Homo sapiens: one gene and its partners. The protein of the gene in region 3 interacts with the protein of the main gene of each other region in a pairwise test. Each region holds a gene or a part of one and is shown on either strand. Other genes may lie near its edges.

Evidence for each region.
Region 1: the proteins of DCPS (region 3) and CHST4 interact in a two-hybrid assay, tested with the Homo sapiens proteins (one large-scale study listed by BioGRID and IntAct).
Region 2: the proteins of DCPS (region 3) and GPC5 interact in a two-hybrid assay, tested with the Homo sapiens proteins (one large-scale study listed by BioGRID and IntAct).

What each region holds. Positions count from the first base shown.
Region 1 is NC_000016.10:71,529,358-71,533,010, reverse strand, and holds part of CHST4 (carbohydrate sulfotransferase 4), read right to left. Parts: intron 1-3,653.
Region 2 is NC_000013.11:91,447,085-91,450,737, forward strand, and holds part of GPC5 (glypican-5 precursor), read left to right. Parts: intron 1-1,676; coding exon 1,677-1,838; intron 1,839-3,653. UniProt on the Homo sapiens protein: Cell surface proteoglycan that bears heparan sulfate.
Region 3 is NC_000011.10:126,338,407-126,342,059, reverse strand, and holds part of DCPS (m7GpppX diphosphatase), read right to left. Parts: intron 345-3,653; exon of another isoform or gene 1-344. UniProt on the Homo sapiens protein: Decapping scavenger enzyme that catalyzes the cleavage of a residual cap structure following the degradation of mRNAs by the 3'->5' exosome-mediated mRNA decay pathway.

The DNA of each region.
Region 1 (3,653 bases), on a different chromosome or scaffold from region 3:
TTCTGTGCTGCCCTTTATTTTTAGTTGTCAATATGTCTTAGGGAGCATTCCAGGGCAGTTCGTAAAGTAGTTCCTCATTCATTGTTGCTTCGAAGAAGTATTATATGGATTAACCACAGTTTATTTAATCAGTTTCCTCATTGATGGATGGGCTTATGAGTTGTTTCCAATCTTTTGCCATTTCAAGTGCTTCAGTGATGACCTTTATGTTCACACACCGTCACACATGTATGTAAGATCACACATGTATGAAGGTAGCCTTCATACTGATCAGAAACTATTCTCTACGTCCAGGGCTCCAGAGACCTGTGAGAGTAGATTTTAGGAGAGAAATTGGGTAGCCACAAAGGAGACTCTTGGCATTTATAGCTTTCTTCCTGAAGGGAAAGCATGCTTTGCCAGCTCGTGGGTTTTCCTTGGAAGTCCCCTGAACCTTCTGGGAAGTATGTAATGACTCAAGCCAAACCTTGGGTGGCAATAGCAGAAAAACCCCTTATCTTCCATTCATAATAACAGTGCTTTTCCTCTGGATGTGCCAAAAAGATCCAATGAGGATCATCTCATCATCATGGCTGAAAATCACTTGCTGTACGGCAGAAAATGTCAATGACTGGTAATTCCTGCCCTGTAGTCTTAGCCCTGCAGATTAGAACAGGACCAGCTAGGCCGGGCATGGTGGCTCACGTCTGTAATCCCAGCACTTTGGGAGGCCAAGGTGGGTGGATCACGAGGTCAGGAGATCGAGACCATCCTGGCTAACACGGTGAAACCCCGTCTCTACTAAAAATACAAAAAATTAGCCAGGCGTGGTGGCGGGCACCTATAGTCCCAGCTACTCGGGAGGCTGAAGCAGGAGAACGGCGTGAACCCAGGAGGCAGAGCTTGCAGTGAGCCGAGATCGCGCCACTGCACTCCAGCCTGGGCGACAGAGCGAGACTCCATCTCAAAAAAAAAAAAAAAAACAACAGGACCAGCTAAGATGTGCTGCTAGTTCTTAAAACTTGAGTGCAAGAGGAAAATGATTAGAAACTAAGCTATTACTGATCTTGGCCCAAGGATGTCCTCCCTCCCCGCAAAGACTGAAGAGGTGACTTTAGCAAAAGAGCTTCTCCTAAGGGCAATGTGAGTATGAGAAAAAGTTTGGAACAAAAATAGGAAGCAATGGAGCAAAACCAAAAAGAGAGGAAAATGAGAAGAACTTATCCTGTATACAGTTATAAGGAAATGGTGATAGAATTTTATAAGCAGGGCTTATAATTAGGAAAAAGCTAACATTTCCTAGGGATTAGGAGAATAGACCTTTCAAAGTGACACCCTCCCTCCCTCCATCCTGCTTGGGGCCAGTTCTGTGTCCTGTGCGGGGCTTGGTGACTCTGGACCCTCCTTGCCTGCCAACTGCTGCTGGCCTGAAGCCCGTTTCCTCCCCAAGCTGGAGCTGGGCCTCCTAACTGCCCCCAGTTGTTCCCAGGTGTTAGTTGTCCACGGTTCTCAGGAACTCCCATGGAAATCCTCTGACTTCTTTTTCTTTCTGTGAGCACTTGCCCTGGGTAGAAAGCGTAGCTTTTGTGAAGCAAGTCCCATCCCTTGTCACTGAGCCCCAAGACACATCTGGATCTAGACGACACACAATGGGCTGACCAGAGAGCCAGGGGATACTTTAGGATGTGTCTTGGGCAAAACTCATTTCTGAAGACTGTAATGAGCAGCAGAGGCAGATGCTCCTGGGCCCTGGCAGAAGCGAGGTGATGCGAGTCACCAGGGCGCTTCATGGAAGGAGACTCTTCAATAGTGTCCTCGAATCCCACTCTCCCATTGCCAGAATTCCCAGCTGTTTGTGTCTAGGGTGGCCTTTGACATCGACCTTTCTCTTCTGTCTCTCAGCATCTCCCCATGACCCACTGCTGCCAAAAACTACCTTTTTCATTTTTTTTAAATTACTATTTATTCTTTTGGGACAGAGTCTCACTCTGTCAGTGATCTCAGCTCACTGCAACTTCTGCCTCCTGGGTTCAAGTGATTCCTGTGCCTCAGCCTCCCAGGTGGCTGGGATTACAGGTGCCCACCACCGTGCCCAGCTAATTTTTGTGTTTTTAGTAGAGACAGGGTTTCGCCATGTTGGCCAGGCTGGTCTCAAACTCCTAACCTCAAGTGATCCACCTGCCTCGGCCTCCCAAAGTGCTGGGATTACAGGTGTGAGCCACCACGCCTGGCCCAAAATCTTTTTTTTCCTTTTTTAGAGTCGGGGGTCTCACTCTGTTGCCCAGGGTGGAGTACAGTGGCATGATCATAGCTCACTGCAGCCTTGAACTCCTGGGCTCAAGTGATTTTCGATCCTCCTGTCTCAGCCTCCCCAGTAGCTGGGATCACAGGTGTGTCCAATCACACCCAGATAATTTTTTCATTTTTTACTAGAGACTGGCCCTCACTATATTGCCCAGGCTGGTGTCAAACTCCTGACCTCAAGCCACCTTCCAGCCTTGGCCTCCCAAAGTGCTGGGATTACAGGTGTGAGCCACCGCACCTGGCCAAAATATCTTTTTAAAGCATAAGTCTATCAACTTCCTGCTTAAAAATCCTTCAATAAATTTCCAGTGTATATGGGATTAAATAAACATCCCCACACCTCGCACCTGGGGTCCTTCATGGCCTGGTCTTGATTTCCTGTCACTCCCTTCTGTTTTAGTGCCTTAGGCTCCCGACTTTCAGTTCTTCCAAACTTGCCCTGTTATTTAAAAGCCCTGAGATTTTTGCAGGACAGCTACTATTCCTTCAAGAATCTAACCTGCCTTCTCCCTGAAAGGGAGAGCCTGCCTTCTCCCTGAAAGAAGTTCTGTCTCTTTCTCCTGAGACTTTTTTTTTTTAATTTTATTTTTTAGACAGAGTCTTGCTCTGTCGCCCAGGCTGGAGTGCAGTGGCATGATCTCAGCTCACCGCAACCTCTGCCTCCTAGATTCAAGCGATTCTCCTGCCTCAGCCTCCCCAGGAGCTGGGATTACAGCCACGCCCAGCTAATTTTTGTATTTCTAGTGGAAATGGGGATTCGCCATGTTGGTCAGGCTGGTCTCGAACCCCTGACCTCAGGTGATTCTCCCGCCTCGGCCTGCCAAAGTGCTGGGATCACAGGTGTGAAGCACCGCGCCCAGCCCCCTCTTGAGATTAATTTGTTTCCCAGACCTTCTGTTAGCAGCCATCCCTTTTGACAGTAAAAGCCTGTATGGGTGCCTCTCTTTTCTCTGGGCCACTATAGCTTAAGGGAAAGGCTGTATCTTATCTTACTTACACGTACATAACAATTCTACAAATGATCAGGGCTCGGCTCATTAAACACTTGCTAAATAAATGAGTAAGTGAGTAAATAGATGAGTGTGGGCTTGATCTCCTGATCAAGATCACACCGCTGCACTCCAGCCTGGTCAACAGAGCGAAACTTGGTCTCAAAAAAAAAAAAAAAAAAAAAAAAAAAAAAATAGATGAGCATGGGAAGAGGCACAGTAATTGCTAGAAAGCAGAAAACTAAAGGAGCTCCTTCAAGAGAATGAAACATAAGTATCCTTTTCTGAAATGCACACGGACACTCTTCAGCATCAGTGACTAAAATTTAGGTGATTGCATGGAACAGTGAGCACATTACCCATGCCGTCTCAGTTACTTGG
Region 2 (3,653 bases), on a different chromosome or scaffold from region 3:
GCCTTCACAGGCCATGTTTAGGAATTGGTCTAACACAACAGTGTTATATATTTAAATTCCAAAGAGATATTTGCTATGATCTGCTGTTATTGTTCTTTTTATTCCTCAGCAGTCTTTCCTACACTAAATATGTTTATATACTTTAATATTTATTCGTTAGTTCTTTTCCTCAATCTCTATTATTGCTTTTCTCTGGATGCTAATTCCTCAATCCTTCAATTTAGGAATAAAGCTGAGAAGATAGCTTTTTTTTTTTTTTCAAATAATTTTACTGTTTGAAGTAGAATTTGCTCTTACGTAACTTTAGGTAAGATAAGTGAAAAACGATTGCCAAAATGTTACCTACTGTGACACTTACGAATATTTTATGCTTCTTAGCCTTTGTAAAGTGTCAAAATTCTGTCATTTGTTATTTGTCTGACTTAAACTACAGCCAAAATCGTTAGAGATTTTGGTGTCCCATGTTGATAGGAAGCTCAGAGTGGTTTCATATATTTTCAGCTGACCCAGAACCAACTTTTGGAAATTTGAGACCTGAGGCCAACTCTGTGTGGAAAAAGTAGGAAGGGCTTGAAAGGTGGTTGTTATGTGCATGCGTCTTGTGTGTATGTCTGTGTGCATGCACCTATTTTACTGATCTAAAATTAGTTGATGAAGAACTAATGTGGAACCTGTGAAACTCACAGAGATTAAGGGCCACAATTCTTCTTGTTATTCTAAAGTAAGGAAATAACCGTATTAGGCCATTATGTAAATAAAATTGTCCTGAGCTTTACTTATAATCTAGTAGCCTTGGAATGCCCTGGGGCTCACATCAGCTCTCTCCATCAGGGTTTCCTCTTTGGGCACTAACTCTTTGTGCTCCACATCTTTCCTCTCTGTCCTCTAGCATATCTGCTGTGCATAAAGGTGCTTGTCCTGGGTCCCTACCAGGATGAAAGTTTAGTGATACTAGCAAAGGTTTTTTTGTAACCATAACTCTTACATTTCATATATTAATAACTTTACATTTCATGCAATATACATCTTCACAGGATCCTTCTAAACATGATTGTACAACTAAAAAGTGCTTTTAAAGGAGGGGATTGTCTCTCGCCAGCTATATAGTGAGTGGAATCTTGGATGCTGAGCTTGGGCCCATGGGGGCCTTGATCTCCCAGCATGTCATTATTGCAGAGATAGCCTACTTCACAAGCAGCACGAGCCTGATGGCAGCTGAGAAATCAGGTCAAGTTTTTTGACCTTTATGTGATGTTCAAAATTCAGTTTCATTTCCCCATGAAAAGCAATTCTTTTAGTCCACATAATTATCTATAACATATTTCTTTCAAGCAATTTTGGCTGAATTGATAAAATAAGCAAAAAACCCACAAAAAACCTTTTTCTTGATTGAGCGCTGTACTTCATAGTAGTTAATTTGCTTTCTATTGAGTGGAGATACTTAATATTTGACCAAGAAGTTAATATAATATTTGAGCAAAGAGTTAATGGTTTAGAATATTTTGTTTATGATTGTGTTAATGAGCAATAGATAAACTTTCTTATAGCAAGTACTCTAGCAAATCCATTCCTCACATAGTCCTTTGTGTGCAGGACTGGTCATAACGCCTGATATATAATATGTAATACTTGTTAAATGAACAGGTAATCATTCTGAAAAATGTTGTGTGTTCCAGGACCTGATCTTCAGGTTTGCATATCCAAAAAGCCTACATGTTGCACCAGGAAGATGGAGGAGAGATATCAGATTGCGGCTCGCCAGGATATGCAGCAGTTTCTTCAAACGTCCAGCTCTACATTAAAGTTTCTAATATCTCGAAATGCGGCTGCTTTTCAAGGTAAGTGGATCTTGAATTCTGCAACTAAGGACTGGCCGTGTTATGTAATTTGCCTAAGATAGTTACGTTGGCAAACTTGGCTGGGTTTATTTCCTTGTATTTACATAATATTCGGGTATAAAATGAGGTTTTAACTTTTTCTAGCCTTCAAAACTTGTTTCTGAGGTCATTGTGGGAGTATATACTGAGTTGGATTGGGGAAACTGAGTTGGACTGTTATGTTAGTGAAATGATCGTTGGAAATATATACTGCTATAGGGTTCTTCCAGGTCTGCCAACATTCTGACTCATAGCTGTACTTTAATATGAACAGACATAATTATTAGATTTCATGGAAAAGTTCTATAACATAAAATCTCATTGCTTTTTACTGGGTAATTATAGATTTATCTACTAAAAATTTTTTTTGGATGTCTCATAATTTTATTTTATATAAAATTTTACTTTAAATTCTGAGATACATGTGCAGAACATGCAGGTTTGTTACATAGGTATACATGTGCCATGGTGGTTTGCTGCACCCATCAGCCCGTCATCTAGGTTTTGAGCCCTGCATGCATTAGGTATTTGTCCTAATGCTCTCCCTCCCCTTGCGTCCCGACCCCGCAACAGGCCCCTGTTATTTGAAGAAATACTCTTTAAATTTCCTTGCTCTAATCTCATATGGTTTTCATAAGAACACCAGTGGAATATATCAAAGTGCAAGCAAGTCTGATAAATAGTAAAACAGGAAATGTTAATTGGATGTTTAAGGGTCATTTAAGACCAGAACTCAACCTTAATTCAAGCAATATGTTCAGATATAAAATTAATAGGTTATAAAATTACAAGGCACACTGAAAAATACATGATGTTTTTCTTATTTTAGTCATCTCTTCTGTAAAATTCCTTATTACTACAATAAAATAGCTTAATTTATTTTTCTTCTTATAAAGCATTAGCTATTCTGTATATGACTAGAATGAAAATATCTAGATTATACAGCTTTTCAAATTATTACCTTTGGTCAATGCAGAATATAACTTCTGTTAGTATTCCTTTTAAATAAGTACATTAATGTCAATCTATTTGAATAATTTGCTTGGTGTACATATATAAGTAAATCACAGAGCTCTTTAATTTTTAAAATGATAGTTATTAAATAAAATAAATGCAATAAATCAGAATAAAATTTAAGTTAAAGTGTAGTTCATGATGAATTAATGCTTTTTTGTAGAAAGCGTGAAATGTCAGATTTTAAGGTTTTATAAATTTAGCTGCTTTTTTAGATGCCTTACAAAACAACTTTATTTCTATTGTAGGATTTATTCATGTGAAATTGTTGGAGGAAAATTTACTGATATACATTTTAAACCAAGATTTGTGATTTAGCTGAGTTAGAAGCCGTTAACCATCTACAGAAAATTATATTTTCTTCCAATGAAAAGGATAGTAGGTACAATATGAAATATACATTTTGGAGGCCACGCAGTGGATATATCAGTCTGAGCAGAATGGAGTTTGTGATAGGTGGTCATATGCTTAAAAAGGTGGACTGGATTCATATTGAATCTTGGATATGTGATCAAGATAGAGCACATTACGTTCAAAGGGTTAGGAAACCTGGAATATTTAGACTTTTAAGATGGATTGAGGCTGGTGAAAAGTTTTGGTGATACTGCTAAAAGTTTAGTGATAACCATCTCAGTAGTAGAAATATATGTTAAGGAGATCGTCTCTATTGAAGTGTCAGCTAATTTTATGTAAACCTTTGTTTTCTGTTTACTAAATTTTATCTGCTTTATTCATTAGGTTGAGTTTTGCTATTTAAAAATT
Region 3 (3,653 bases):
TTCCTTGTGAAGATAATTTGAGGACCATGACTCACCCAACCACATTTCCTGGGGCCTCAAATTGAAAATTCAGGATGGGCTTTTCTATATGACTGGCTGATATCCAACTATGCCATGGTCTTTACATGCCATGAACATTCTTTCCTGCCAGAGTTCTAAGAATCTGTGTTCTCTGCCTTAGACCTTCTGCAGATGAGCCCACAGGAAGCTCCACGTGTAGCTGAGCTACATGCACCAGGCCTCAGTTTGCCCCAAGTCCCCTGTGTACTCTCTCATGGCCTGTGGCCAAGAAATGTATTCTCTCACTTTGGACTTAGGAGTCCAAAGAGAAGCCCAGAAACAAAATTGCTTGAACTTGAATTTGTGTGCGTGCGCACGTGTGCACGTGGTGGTGAAGGTGTATGTTTTCGGCTGTTCTATGCGTCACTGTCACCAAACTCCCAAATAATAGTAACATTTGTTTAGATGATGTCTGCTGACAAATCACAAACACGACGCTAACTCGCAACTCTCTGCTCCACTGGCACAGAATAGGGCATGGAGCCTGGTGCTGGGTGTCAGCCCATGGTGTTGGGTGTCAGTTCACAGGCTGGGTAAGGGAGGGAAAATAATCCATTCTTTGATATTAGACATGACCCAAAATTTCCTGCTGGCAGCCAAAGGCCTCCTCGCTCAGAGAAGTCATCTGAAAAAAGCTAGCCCAGGGGCAGGAAAGGGCCTCAGGCTGGCGCCCCAGAAGGTGGCCCATCAGTCACTCTGGGAAGACAGATAGACATCGTCAGTCTCTTTTTACAAGTCAAGACAGTAAAATCAAAGTAATAGTTTCCTGGCAGGAAGAAAGAGAATTGCTGGAGCGTTGGAGAGCCATCTCTTAACCTCTGGGGTGACTCAAAGGAAGAGTTGCCTGGTCTGAGAACTTTAGACCAAAGAATTTAAATCATGTGAACTGAAAATGCATGTGTATCCATATATACATGTACATATATGTTTATATACCCAATATAGAAAGGTTACCAGAGACAAAGAAATAGCAACAATAGTTGTTTTGGGGAAGGGAAAGGAAGGGCTGTGGGGTGAGGAAGCATACTTTCACTGAATATCCTCTGTACTGTGTGCATTTTTGCCACATGCATGAACTAAACCTACAAGAAAATAAACAAATAAAAAAAAAGAACACACAGGTGATCCTTTAAGAGAACAGAAGAAGGGATGTTATAACCTCTAAGGAGGCACAGTCTCTAGCAAACAGGCACCTGATAAATACATGTTGAATGGATGAAAAAATGGATTATCTCTTTAATTCAGGGGCATCAGTTTGGAGACAGTAACTTCCAGGACCAGTGGCAGGAGGAGATTCAAGGTGGCTAGGAAAGCTCCTCAAAGCAAACACCAGGGTGCCTCCCTATCCCCAGCCCTTCCCTGTCCCAAAGACAAAGGATAGAAGCCCAGGCATGGCCTATCTTCCTGCTGGATACATTGCCTAATTCAAAGAGAGCTACCAATTCAGTGCTGTCACAAGTCAAAGATTTGAGACGCTAAAATACAGCATCATCAAAAGTCAAGTAAGAATTAAGGTCGGGCGCGGTGGCTCACGCCTGTAGTCCCAGCTACTTGGGTTGCTGAGGCACGAGAATTGCTTGAATCCAGGAGGTGGAGGTTGCAGTGAGCTGAGATCACACCACTACACTCCAGCCTGGGCAACAGAGTGAGACTCTGTCTCAAAAAAAAAAAAAGAATTAAGCAAATGTTAAGAAGGACCACACCTGCATCGCTATGAAGCAAAGTGTGACGTTTAAGCTGGCCCTTTCATGACCCTTGAGGACAAGTAATTCCAGCCCTGTGGCTGGCAGCCAGAGTGCAGCTCCTAAAGTCTTTCCTGTCTTAAAGGGGACAGAAAAAGGGAGGTTCCACTGGCAGCTGAAGCAGAGCCTGGAGGCACTGGGGTCAGAAGGACGGCAGATTTCTCTTCTCTGCCGTGGGCTCAAATGCATTCAGGGCTTCTGGAATACAGACGGACAAGTCTATTGTTGTCCCTCCATGACCTTAAGACTGCGATCCCCTGGCAAGCTCTTCAGTCTTCAAGAGTCTGGTGCGGCAGAAGGTCCTCCTCCTACCCCACACCTCTATGGCCCTGCTGGGATTCTCATTAACGGTGGGCCCCGCCTCCTGTGACCCAGGCTCTGACCCCGGATCTCTAGGTGCAGGGCAGCCCCACAAGACAGATGGGGGTTTGCAGAGCCACCACTCAGTTTGAGACAAGGGACCATCAGGTCCTACCTCTTCAAATGCCTACAGAGCCAGTCCTGGCTCCCTCCTTCAAGGCCTGAAGGTGGCACAGGCAGAGAGAAGCTGCAGGGAAGGGCAGAGTGGATGCAGGCGTCCCCTTAGCCTCTCACTGCAGCGCCCCACACAAGGAGAGCCCTCTTCTTTGAACTTACTTGGCTCTAGGGAATCATCGATCAATGCTGCAACTTCGGAAAATCCCTTCAAATTCTTTCCCACCCCTTGGGTCACATTTGGGAATTCCCACAAGCCTCTTGTCAAGAGACGAATTATGCTCACTTGCCTGTGTAACCCTGAGCCACAATCCCACCCCTTTACCCCACGTCAAAACTGAAGGTGTCATAGGCAGCCACAACTGGGAAAGCACAGGGAGCGAGCCCGCGGAGGGGCAGACGAGGCTCACTCCAAGGCACCTTCTCTACAAGAGTCTCTCCAGCCTTTGACGGGTGCAGAAACTAGACGGGCCCACCGAAAGCAGAACGGCACATCTGAGCCTGGATTACTCCACAGGTGAAAGTGCAGGAGAGAATATGTCTGTCTGCTCCCAGCACCCATGCCTGCCTGCCTACCTCGGCCTTATCCAGGCCCTTCTTCTGTTGCAGGCTGAGCACAGCCAGGTTCCAGTCTGTGTTAAGAACAGCACTCTCTGCAACACAGTGGCTCTGCCTGTTTCTGACCCTGTCAGGGTATAAAAGCTTCTGATACTCTCAGGTATAAAAGAGGTGGTGGTAAGTGATAACTCTGGTGGTGGGCTGGTCTGGGAGAGACAGAAGACCATAGGGAACTGGAAAGGGATACCTGTGAGGGAGGACGGCTCCTCCCAAACCTGCTCCTTAGGAAAGTAGGAGAAGCAGAGGTGCTTGGAGGCAGGGCACGGGGCCAAGGGGCCTGAGTAGAAGTCTGGGCTAAGCTACTCCACAGCTCGGGCTGAGGAGGAGATGCCTTGGGTTGGTCACCATGGTTCCTGCCTGCCAGTGCTTCAGAACACGGGCCTGCCTGGATCTGCTGGTGTCAAGGGGAATGGAGAAAATGGAAACACCCCACCCGAGGGCTCCAGATGCGGGTGGAAGCACAGGTGGCTGCCCAGACCACTTGGCTGGTAAGGAATGGCCTATGTAGTCATGGGCACAAACATCACCCCATTTTACCTCTTGGGTGGGAGGACAGCCAGAAAGGGCTTTAAGCTGACCCATTAAAGCAAAAGCACTTATGTATGACAGGTATCCACCCAGTCCCCACAGAGAGCTCAGGCCAACCCTTGTTGGTTAATTATAATCTGCTTAGAGACAGGCCAGCGTGAGAAAGAGGGCAGTCAGAAGGACCAGCACTTACAGCAGGGTGGCCAGAGATCAGGACATTCCAGCCAGAAA